Regions from separate parts of the Homo sapiens genome. Here region 1 is linked to region 2. The links come from fine-mapping of genetic effects on gene expression. A gene starts in region 2. The other region holds a variant in brackets. All regions are shown on one strand. Distances are between the middles of the regions. Region 1 overlaps GOLGA3 (golgin A3). Region 2 holds the start of GOLGA3 (golgin A3).

Region 1 (5,368 bases), 53 kb after region 2:
AAAAAAAAATGTGGCTGGAATATTTTAACAGGAGCAGTTAACAGCTTTCTCTTGGCCCCACAGGCCTCATCCGCCCGGCCGTTTAACCCTGGCCTGGGGCCTGCTGCTGGGCCGTGGTTCAGGCTGGCTCACACGGTGCCCCAGCTCTCCAGCTTTCGCTCCGTGCTTAGGGTTCACTGAATTTTTTTCGGTTTTTTTTTTTTCAGACGGAGTCTCACTTTGTCACCAGGCTGGAGTGCAGTGGCTTAATCTTGGTTCACTGTAACCTCTGCCTCCCGGGTTCAAGTGATTCTCCTGCCTCAGCCTCCCCAGTAGCTGGAACTACAGGCGTGCACCACCATGCCTGGCTAATTTTTTGTATTTTAGTAGAGATGGGGTTTCACCATATTAGCCAGGATGGTCTCAATCTCCTGACCTGATGACCTGCCCGCCTTGGCCTTCCAATTAATTTTATTTTTATTTTTTAAATGTATTTATTTTATTTTATTATTTTTATTTATTTATTTGTTTATTTTTTTGAGATTTTGAGATGGAGTCTCGCTCTGTCGCCCAGGCCGGAGTGCAGTGGCGCGATCTCGGCTCACTGCAAGCTCCACCTCCCGGGTTCACGCCATTCTCCTGCCTCAGCCTCCTGAGTAGCTGGGACTACAGGTGCCCGCCACCACGCCTGGCTAATTTTTTGTATTTTTAGTAGAGACGGGGTTTCCCCGTGTTAGCCAGGATAGTCTCGATCTGACCTCGTGATCCACCCGCCTCGGCCTCCCACAGTGCTGGGATTACAGGCGTGAGCCGCCACGCCTGGCCTATTTATTTCATTTTTGGGACCGGGTCTCACTCTGTCACCCCAGCTGGAGTGCAGTGGCGCGATCACAGCTCCCCTGCAGCCTGGAACTCCTGAGCTCAAGTGATCCTTCCACCTCAGCCTCCTGAGTACCTGGGACCACCATGCCCTGCTAATTTTTTTATTTTTTGTGGAGACAGGGTCTTGCTATGTTGTCCAGGCTGTGAATACACTGGAAGAAGACTATAAAAACTATTTAGACCGAGAAATCTCGAATAAATGTGTTCATTCAACAGATAGCAGCAGCCACATAAGTGTGCACTTGCTGCGTGCCGAGCTCCGGGTCAGGTGGTTTCATCTTTACAAGGAACTTGACAGGCCTGTGGAGAAGCACACGCCGGCAGCCAGGACATGCACGGGGCCGGGAGTGCATTCACCCCCTGCGCCCGGCACGTCATAAAGCTGTGGGTGTCACGCAGGGCATGGACAACGTGGCTTCCTTCCTCCTAGGTGGCTGCTGCCAAGGTGGAAGCCGGGCATAACCGCCGCCACTTCAAGGCGGCCTCCTTGGAGCTGAGTGAGGTGAAGAAGGAGCTGCAGGCCAAGGAACACCTGGTGCAGAAGCTGCAGGCCGAGGCCGACGACCTTCAGTGAGTGCCTGGGCCCCGCCAGCCCTCAAACATGGCTGTCCTGGCAATGGGCGGGGTCTAATTCACACCTTCAGCACAGCGAGGGTCATCTATATTTTGCAAATTGCCGAGTACTTGAGTGAATCATAGGAGTAGAAGGCACCCAGCCTCCGTCTCCAGAATCCTGAGCCTCACTCACTGCCCCGTGTCCTCCCCCCAAGAGAGAAAGCGCCCCAGCAGGAGTACTTAGCTTCAGGTCAGAGGCGGGAAGGGGCGGCCCGGCGCGGGGCTGATGCTGTGGCTCTGTGGGTCCCATGCACTGTGGTCTCGGGGCCGGCACTCTCTGGGATCTGTGAGGGGTGCCGGCAAAGTGAGTCTCTGGGATCTGTGAGGGGTGCCAGTGAAGTGTGAGTCTCAGGTGCTTCGTGAGGACTGCCCGAGTGCACACTGTGGGCACCAAGCATGGCTGCAGCACGCAGTGCACAGCAGAGGGCCTGCCAGGACGAACGCCTTCCACAGGCAGCATTTCCCAGCGGGAGGGCACAGCACACTGGAGGAGCGTGGCGATTCCCTTCTTTCTTGTTTTTTTACGCTAGGATTCGGGAGGGGAAACATTCCCAGGAGATAGCACAGTTCCAAGCAGAGCTGGCCGAGGCCCGGGCACAGCTCCAGCTCCTGCAGAAGCAGCTGGACGAGCAGCTCAGCAAACAGCCCGTGGGAAACCAAGAGGTGACGGTTCACGGGGGCTGGACTTGCAGGGCTGGACTCACGGGTGCCCTGGGTGACTTCACTCCATCCTGCTTGGGGAGCAACAGTGATGGTTTTCTGAATATGGTATTAAAAGATAAACCAAAACACAGCTAGAGCCATTTTCCAGGGCAGTAAAGCCACTTTAATATTCTTTTGGCCATGTGACTTTCCCCTCTTTAGATGGAAAATCTCAAATGGGAGGTGGATCAGAAAGAAAGAGAAATCCAGTCCTTGAAGCAGCAGCTGGACTTGACGGAGCAGCAGGGCAGGAAGGAACTGGAAGGGCTACAGCAGCTGCTGCAGGTACCTGTGTGTGAGGCGCTGGGCACAGGCGGGAGCAGCAGGGAGGAAGGAGCTGGAGGGGCTACAGCAGCTGCTGCGGGTACCTGTGTGTGAGGCGCTGGGCACAGGCGGGAGCAGCAGGGAGGAAGGAACTGGAGGGGCTACAGCAGCTGCTGCGGGTACCTGTGTGTGAGGCGCTGGGTACAGGCGGGAGCAGCAGGGAGGAAGGAGCTGGAGGGGCTACAGCAGCTGCTGCGGGTACCTGTGTGAGGCTCTGGGTACAGGCGGGAGCAGCAGGGAGGAAGGAGCTGGAGGGGCTACAGCAGCTGCTGCAGGTACCTGTATCTGAGGCGCTGGGCACAGGCGGGAGCAGCAGGGCAGGAAGGAGCTGGAGGGGCTACAGCAGCTGCTGCAGGTACCTGTGTATGAGGTGCTGGACACAGGCGGGAGCAGCAGGGAGGAAGGAGCTGGAGGGGCTACAGCAGCTGCTGCAGGTACCTGTGTATGAGGTGCTGGACACAGGCGGGAGCACCACTTC[T/G]GGGGCAGCCCCTGGTTCCTGTGCCATGCGGCCTGCGGCCAGGCAGTGCTCCCGGGGAGCTGGCGCCCTCGTCCAGTGGGGCGCTCGCAAAGCCACCTGGTCCACGTCATGCGGCAGGACAGAGGCAGGGGCGAAGCCTGGGCCGGCTCCGATCCCTTGGCCGCGCTGTGTGTCACGGACCAAGAACGTGATTTCATGGACTACAGCAAATGGGAGGGTGCGTGGGAAAAGTTTGCCAATTTGCGATAAACTTCTCAACAAAGAACTCAGGGTTCGGTCTTGACTGCTCGGGAAAGGAGTGTAATTGCTAAGTTCCCCTTGTAAATGAGGGGCTTGAGTTACAGTGAGAATTTATTTATAGACACAGGCCGACAAGCGTCCATCATCCAGAAATCCAAAACCTGGCCAGGCCTGGTGGCTCACACCTGTAGTCCCAGCACTTAGGCAGTGAGCTGTGGTTGGACCACTGCACTCCAGCCTGGATGACAGAGTGAGACCCTGTGTCTAAAAAAAACAAGAACAAAAATCCAAAATCTGAAACTTTCTGAGCATCAACATGATAAAGGAAATGATCATTGGAACATTTCAAATTTTTGGATTGTGGATACTCAGCTGGTAGTTGTAACGCAAATATTCAAAATTCCAAAATTTGACACACTTCTGGTCCTGAGCATTTTGGACCTGGACTGGCATCATCTAGATGGCGCCGAGGAGGACATGTGTGTGCTTAACCTATGAAAATACAAACTCGGATCTTGGCAGGATGTTTAAGATCTGTTAGCTTTTAAAAATCTGACTTCATTTTCCACAGAACGTCAAGTCTGAGTTGGAGATGGCCCAGGAAGACCTGTCCATGACCCAGAAGGATAAATTTATGCTCCAGGCAAAAGTGTCGGAGCTGAAGAACAACATGAAGACCCTGCTCCAGCAGAACCAGCAGCTCAAGCTGGACCTACGCCGCGGCGCGGCCAAGACGGTACTCAGGCCCGCGTCCCTCCCGGGGTAGCCGACGTGCGCTGTAGATGCTCTCGGACAGGAGGCTGGCAGACGTGTTAGTCATTCAGACATAAACGGATTTGTTGAGCCCACACTGAGCAGCTGCTGTGTAGTCAGTGGTAATGGGGTGACAGATGAAATCATTTCATTCTGGTTTCATTCATCCAACAGTGTTTTCCTCGTTCTGTGAATTCAAATACCACTTTGTTGTAATGTGCTTTGTAAAGCAGATGAGCGGTGGTCTGTGACTCGGCAGTCCCTGCTGTGTGTGAAGGGCTGGGGCCCGGGAGCTGTGCCCAGGCGCCCGGCGGTTTTCTGTGCTCGGTCCACATCCATGTTTTCCAGGAGGCAGGTGGGAGGGCAGCGCTCGGATTGAGAGGCCGTTTAGCGTCGTGTGCTTATCTGTGGAAAAAGTTTGAAGTCCCAGAAAAGGGAGCCTAAGCTGGAAAACTTACTTAATTTCTTACGGAAATTCCACATCAAGGTCTTGAGTATCTGATGGGAGAAGCGTCTGGGAGAGCTGTAGTCTGTGGCTCGGCCCCGTCCTGCCGCAGACCCAGGACTTAGGTTGTCTCTGCTTTGCTCTGGTTTTGTGCCTTAGGAATAAAGGTGTTTCCTCAGCCAGCTATTCTGGAGCTCCGGGGACTGTCGTGCTGGGCTGCCACGGCGGCCAGGACGGTCCCCTTCCCAGAGGCCCCACGTCCACCAGTTGGGGAGGCCCGTTTGCCACAAGCTGTGCTAGTGAGACTGACCCGAGGGAGGGGACGGTGGGAAAGCTGATCATGTGCTTTTAAAAACAGAGAAAGGAGCCGAAAGGCGAGGCCAGCTCTTCCAACCCTGCCACGCCCATCAAGATCCCGGACTGCCCAGTTCCCGCCTCGCTGCTGGAGGAGCTGCTGAGACCACCGCCCGCCGTGAGCAAGGAGCCCCTCAAGAACCTGAACAGCTGCCTCCAGCAGCTCAAGTACGACCGTATTCCGTGCTGCACTTCAGCTAGTCTTAAAGATTAATGCCCTCTTACCTGGGAGGGCACTCCTGGTGCCAGTACTGAGTGCCCAGCAGAGTTTCAGCAGGTTTATATAAGGGTGGGGGACTCGCATACATAGCCTCTGAGGTTTATATAAGGGAGGGACTTGCACACACAGCCTTTGAGGTTTATATAAAGGGGGAAGGACTCAGCCTCTGAGGTTTATATAAAGGGGGAGGGGGACTCGCACAGCCTCTGTGGTTTATATAAAGGGGGAGGGACTCACAGCCTCTGCGGTTTATATAAAGGGGGAGGGGGACTCGCACAGCCTCTGAGGTTTATATAAAGGGGGAGGGGGACTCACACAGCCTCTGCGGTTTATATAAAGTGGGAGGGGGACTCGCACAGCCTCTGAGGTTTATATA
Region 2 (5,373 bases):
GTCCACGGTTTGTTTCACCATGTCAGAGTGGCGTGGGGGGTCCATGGTTTGTTTCACCATGTCAGAGGACATTTTGGTTGTTTCCAGTTTGGGGTCAGTAATGTACAGGCTTTTGTGTAGACATAAGTTTATTTCTCTGAGTTCAATGTCTAGGAATGCAGTTGCTGGGTCATAAAATTGTTTACTTTTTGAAGAAACTGCCCAACTATATTCCAGAGTGGGTGCACTATTGCTGTTCCCATCAGCAATGTATAAGAGATTAGTTACTCCAGAATACATTATTCCCAGCATTTCATATTGCCACTGCTGTATATTATTTCAGCTGTTCTAATAGGTGTATACTAATATCCCAAGGCAGTCTTTTTTTTTTTTTTTTTTTGAGACAGAGTCTGACTGTGTCACCCAGGCTGGAGTGCAATGGTGTGATCCCAGCTCACTGCAGCCTCCACCTCCCAGGTTCAAGCGATTCTCCTGCCTCAGCCTCCCAAGTAGTTGGTATTACAGGTACCTGCCACCATGCCCAGCTAATTTTTGTATTTTTAGTAGAAGCAGGATTTCACCATGTTAGTCAGGCTGGTCTCGAACTCCTGACCTCAGGTGATCCACCTGCTTCGGCCTCTCAAAGTGCTGGAATTACAGGCTTGAGCCACCGCGCCTGACCTCAAGATAGTCTTAATGTGCATTTCTGTAATGGCTAGTGATGCTGAACCTGGTCACAAGCTTATTTGCCACTCATATATCCTTTTAGTGAAATGTGTTTTCATGTTTTTTGCTTGTCTTCTGTTTGTGTGTGTGTATGGTTTTTTTTTTTTTGAGATGGAGTCTCATTTTGTCACCCAGGTTGGAGTGCAGTGACACAATCTCAGCTCACTGCAACCTCCGCCTCCCAGATTCAAGCAATTCTTGTGCCTCAGCCACCCAAATAGCTGGCATTACAGGTGTGCGTCACCACGCCTGGCTAATTTTTGTATTTTTAGTAGAGACAGGGTTTCTCCATGTTGGCCAGGCTGGTCTCAAACTCCTGGCCTCAAGTGATTTGCCCCCTTAGCCTCCCAAAGTGCTGAGATTACAGGCATGAGCCATTGTGCCCAGAATAATTGTATTTTTTTTTACTGTCAAGTTTTGAGAGTTCTTTATATATTCTAGCTACTAGTCCTTCAACAAACGTGGTTTGAAAATATTTTCTCACAGTCTGTAACTCATCTTTTCATCCTCTTAATGTGGTCTTTCTCACAAGGTTGGTTTGTTTGTTTTGAGATGGAGTCTCGCTCTGTCGCCCAGGCTGGAGTGCAGTGGCACGATCTCAGCTCACTGCAACCTCTGCCTCCCAGGTTCAAGTGATCCCCCTGCCTCAGCCTCCCGAGTAGTTGGGACTACAGGCACACACCACCACGCCCAGCTAATTTTTTTGTATTTTTCATAGAGACAGGGTTCACCATGTTGGCCAGGATAGTCTTGATCTCTTGACCTTGTGATCCACCTGCCTCGGCCTCTCAAGGTGCTGGAATTACAGGCGTGAGACACTGTGCCCGGCTTTTTTTTTTTTTTTTGAGACGGAGTCTTGCTCTGTTGCCCAGGCTGGTGGCACGATCTCCGCTCACTGCAACCTCTCCGCCTCCTGGATTCAAGCGATTCTCCTCCAGCCTCCTGAGTAGCTGGGATTACAGGCACATGCCACCATGCCCGGCTAATTATTATATTTTTAGTAGAGATGGGTTTCACCATTTGGCCTGGCTGGTCTCAAACTCCTGACCTCAGGTAATCCGCCCACCTTGGCCTCCCAAAGTGTTGGGATTACAGGCGTGAGCCACCGCATCCGGTGAAAAGTTTCTAATTTTTTCATGAAGTTTACTCTATCAACTTCTTTTGTGAATTGTGTTTTTTTGGTCAGATCTAAGAACTCTTCCCCAAGCTCTAGATGTGAGAAATTCTGTTTTCTTCTAAAAGTTGTATATTTTACGCCTCAGTCTGATCATTTTGTGTTAGAATTTGCATTTGCAGATAACATGATGGCCCATGTAAAAAATACAAGGATTTTACAACAACAACCGCAAAACACCAAATGAACCCTCAAACTAATGAGTTCAGCGAGGTCTCAGGATAAGAAAATCAACATAGAATTCATCACATTTGTGTAGACCAACAGTGAACACGTGGAAAACGTCAAAAACGCAGTGTTACAGTTGTTTGATGTGAAATACTATAAACTTAAAAGGTGCAGAATCTGTATGCTGAAATTACAAAATGCTGGTGGAAGAAATCAAAAGACCGAAATAAATGGAGGGGCCACCAGGGACGCAGATGAAGGACCGAGTCAGCGATGCCCGTGCTCCCCAAACGATCTGCAGCAGTTCCCATCAAAATCCCAGAAAACTTCGTAGACTGAAGCGTATTCCAAAATCCGCAGAGATGAGCGCAACATCACAGAGGACCCCGAGGCGCCCTCCAGGCCATTTCCTTCCTGACAGCTGGAAGAGCGGCCTGGCGGATGAGGGAAGGTGGAAAGCCGTTCCCCAGCGGCCAGCGGCCCGCGCCGTCCAGCTTTGCCCTTTTTAAAGGGGAAGCAAATAGGGTCCAAAGCAGCGTCGCCTTTGATCTGGCACCTGAAGCGCGAAGGGCGCCGGCCGGGTGGAGGTGCGGGGTTGGGGCGGGGACCCGACTAGGGCGGGCGGGGAAGTCACGCCCACACCGAGCTCGGCCGCGCCCATGCCGAGCCCCGGCCACGCCACTTCCGCCGGAAGCTCGGTTCAGCTTCCTGAAAGAGTTGGTCCTGCAGTTCCGGAAGTTGCGTTTCTACTAGGGAAAGGTCCGCAAACTCTTAAGGTCACTTTCTGAAGGCGGCCTCATCACAGTCGGAGGTGAGCTCGATCCGGACCCTGTGGGCAGAGGGTCCCCGGCCCTAGGGTGGCCACTTGAAGAAGAGGAGGACGTTCTCTGTTCCGGAACGAAAGTAGCGCGTGCAGGCTGTTTCCGGGGACCCGAGGCCGATGCACCGCTCGCCCCGCCCCTCTCACGGCCACGTCTCCGCCGGAGCATCCGGGCCGGGCGGCCTCCGGGGCTGCCAGAGCAGCAGGGTGAGGGGCTCGGAGGCCGCGGCGCCTCGGGGCTCGGGCTCCCGCTCCCGCTCCCGCTCCCGCAGTGCATGGGCGGGGGAGGCTCGAGGGGCGGCGGCGGGGCCTGGGCGCGTCCCTGCAGCGTGGCGGGACGGCCCCGTTCCAGTCACCCCCGCCTCGCTGCGGTGGCCTCGGGCCTGGGCGCCCGCCTTCAGCTGCGGCGGAGCTGGCTCTGTAAATGCCGGTGCCCGCGAGCCCTCCTGAATGCTTGTCTGCGCCCGACGAGCGCGGCCTGTCCCGAAGCTGTCCACTGCCACCACTCGGGCAGTGCTTGCTTTAGCCTGGCCCTTTGCAGCTGAAAGGCGTGACATGGTGTCGGGTGGTTCGTGGGAAGTCGGGGTTTCAGGAGTCCGTGTACTTCCTTGTTTGTCTTTGTCGCTGGCCGACTTGTCTTCATTCCAGGTGGCCAGAGCGAGTGGGGCCGGGCGTTGTCACGGGTATGAACCCGACGAATGTCAGTCGTGTGGCGGGTCCTGGGTATTGTGGGTCTGGGTCACTGCCCCCGCGGAGCCCACCTAGGACAGGGACACCCAGGGTCGCCAGCGAGAGGGTACCGGGCGGTGGTTGGGTGGGGTCCGCTACTCTAAGTGGGAGCCTGGGGGGCGGGCGACTTCCGTGCTAAGGCCTCTATGACGAGAAGCAAGCCAGGCAAAATTGTGAGAAAAGCGCGCCTCAGGCAGAAAGTTTGAAGACCCTGAGGGCGGAGGATGTGGCCACAGTGTAATGGCAAAGGGGGAAAGCGATGGCGGTAAGGATGTTGGTGTAGGCAGGTGCTGGATTCTTAAGAGGTTGGAGTTTATTGTCACTGGGCCAGTGTAAGCCATTTACAGATGACTCATGGATTTTTTTTTTTTTTTTAAGAGACTGGGTGTGTTGCTGTATTGCCCAGGCTGGTGTGGAACTCCTGGCCTCAAGCGATCCTCCCACCCCAGCCTCCCAAAGTGCTGGTGTTACAGGTGTGAGCAGCCACACCCGTCGTCGTGGATTATTTTGAACTGTCTTTTAAACGACATCAACATAGCGCTTTATAACCCTTTAATATCTTTTCAGGCAGTATACCTTAAATGGCAAGAAGGAAATAAATCATCTGACATCACTCAGATTGAAGAGGAGCTTTTTTTCCCCCGATTGCCTTAAGAAGTAGCATACTTTCCCAAGTGAGAATGCCTTCAGTTGGCTTTTAGCGATTTTGACAAGCAACAACTAAAGGGAAAATCGTGATAATTACTGTCATTTTATTGAGGACACGGGACAGACTCTGTGCCTTGTTATATTTAATCCTGGCAAAATTTTGCGTTCATTTTCTCATTGTTTTACTGGTGAGGAAACAGGCTAAATGTGATTAAGAAATCTTTAGCCCAGGCTCTCACAGGTAAGTGGTGGAGGGTCGGGAGCTGAGGCCGGAGTCCTGACTTCCAAGCCTGCCCTTCACGTCTCTGCAGTGACATGAGGCTTGCTTGCTTTTGGTTTTCACTTTGTGTATAGATCTGTGTTTACTTTTGGATACTAGTGTGGCCTCCACCAGGTACTCTTTTCCTGAGGAAATCGTGTTTGGTTTTTGGCTGTGCTCTGTTGTTTCTAATACCCGATAGGAACAGGTGAAACGAGGTGGTGTAGATGGAGCCGTGAATGTTTGTATACAGAATTCAGGTGTGGGGGAAGCAGAAAGTCCTGTAGGTGCCTGAGGTGGTGGTTTCTCAGTATGAAGTCCCTTGATGTTACCCAGCTGTGAACCTAGGGTTGTGTGTACCTTTCGCAGTTCTAAGTGACAGCTTTGTCCTGTCTCTTCTCTCTAGAGACGCAGGAGTGCGAGTGATCATAAGTGAGACTGATTAGACTGGCCTCTTTATTTAAAATAGAGCCATGTTTGTAGTACCAGCTTTCTGTGATGCACTGGCAGTTGCTCCTCCTCCTCGCTGCCCGGAGATCGCTTTTTGTCAGTAGTCTGAGGTAATGAGGCCCTGACGACTGAGTCATTCCAAATTTTAACTAAAAATCAAGCAAGACTGGGAATCGACCGAGACTGCCAGCTTATTGCCCTACAGGGAGAAGTATCACTGTCACCAAACTCCAGGCAGTTAGTGAATTCTCTCTCTGGTCCGGCTTCAGGAGGAGCTGCCTGTAAAGAGGGGCCGTCTTTGTGACTTACAGTCACCGTCATGGGGTCTCTGTTCTGGAGAGGTGGGCTGCTTGGACACCAGCAGGGGAATTAAGTGAGCAGAATCTGTGATTGCACTGGACTCAGCTCGGTGCGGTTGGC

The links.
Region 1: its variant is fine-mapped to the expression of GOLGA3 in hippocampus (GTEx, PIP above 0.99).

Annotation. Positions count from the first base shown.
Region 1 is chr12:132,773,729-132,779,096 of GRCh38, reverse strand. GOLGA3 (golgin A3) reads left to right here. Exons shown (of 24, transcript NM_001389683.1): 19 at 1,292-1,431; 20 at 2,007-2,139; 21 at 2,341-2,463; 22 at 3,792-3,956; 23 at 4,777-4,940. Among named protein-coding and RNA genes, the nearest start is that of ANKLE2, 15 kb to the right of the region's middle. The variant T/G (reference allele first, on the strand shown) is at 2,981.
Region 2 is chr12:132,826,504-132,831,876 of GRCh38, reverse strand. It overlaps GOLGA3 (golgin A3), which reads left to right and starts at 3,008. Exons shown (of 24, transcript NM_001389683.1): 1 at 3,008-3,074. RefSeq lists silencers at 2,491-2,700, 3,071-3,130, 3,631-3,730 and an enhancer at 2,781-2,920.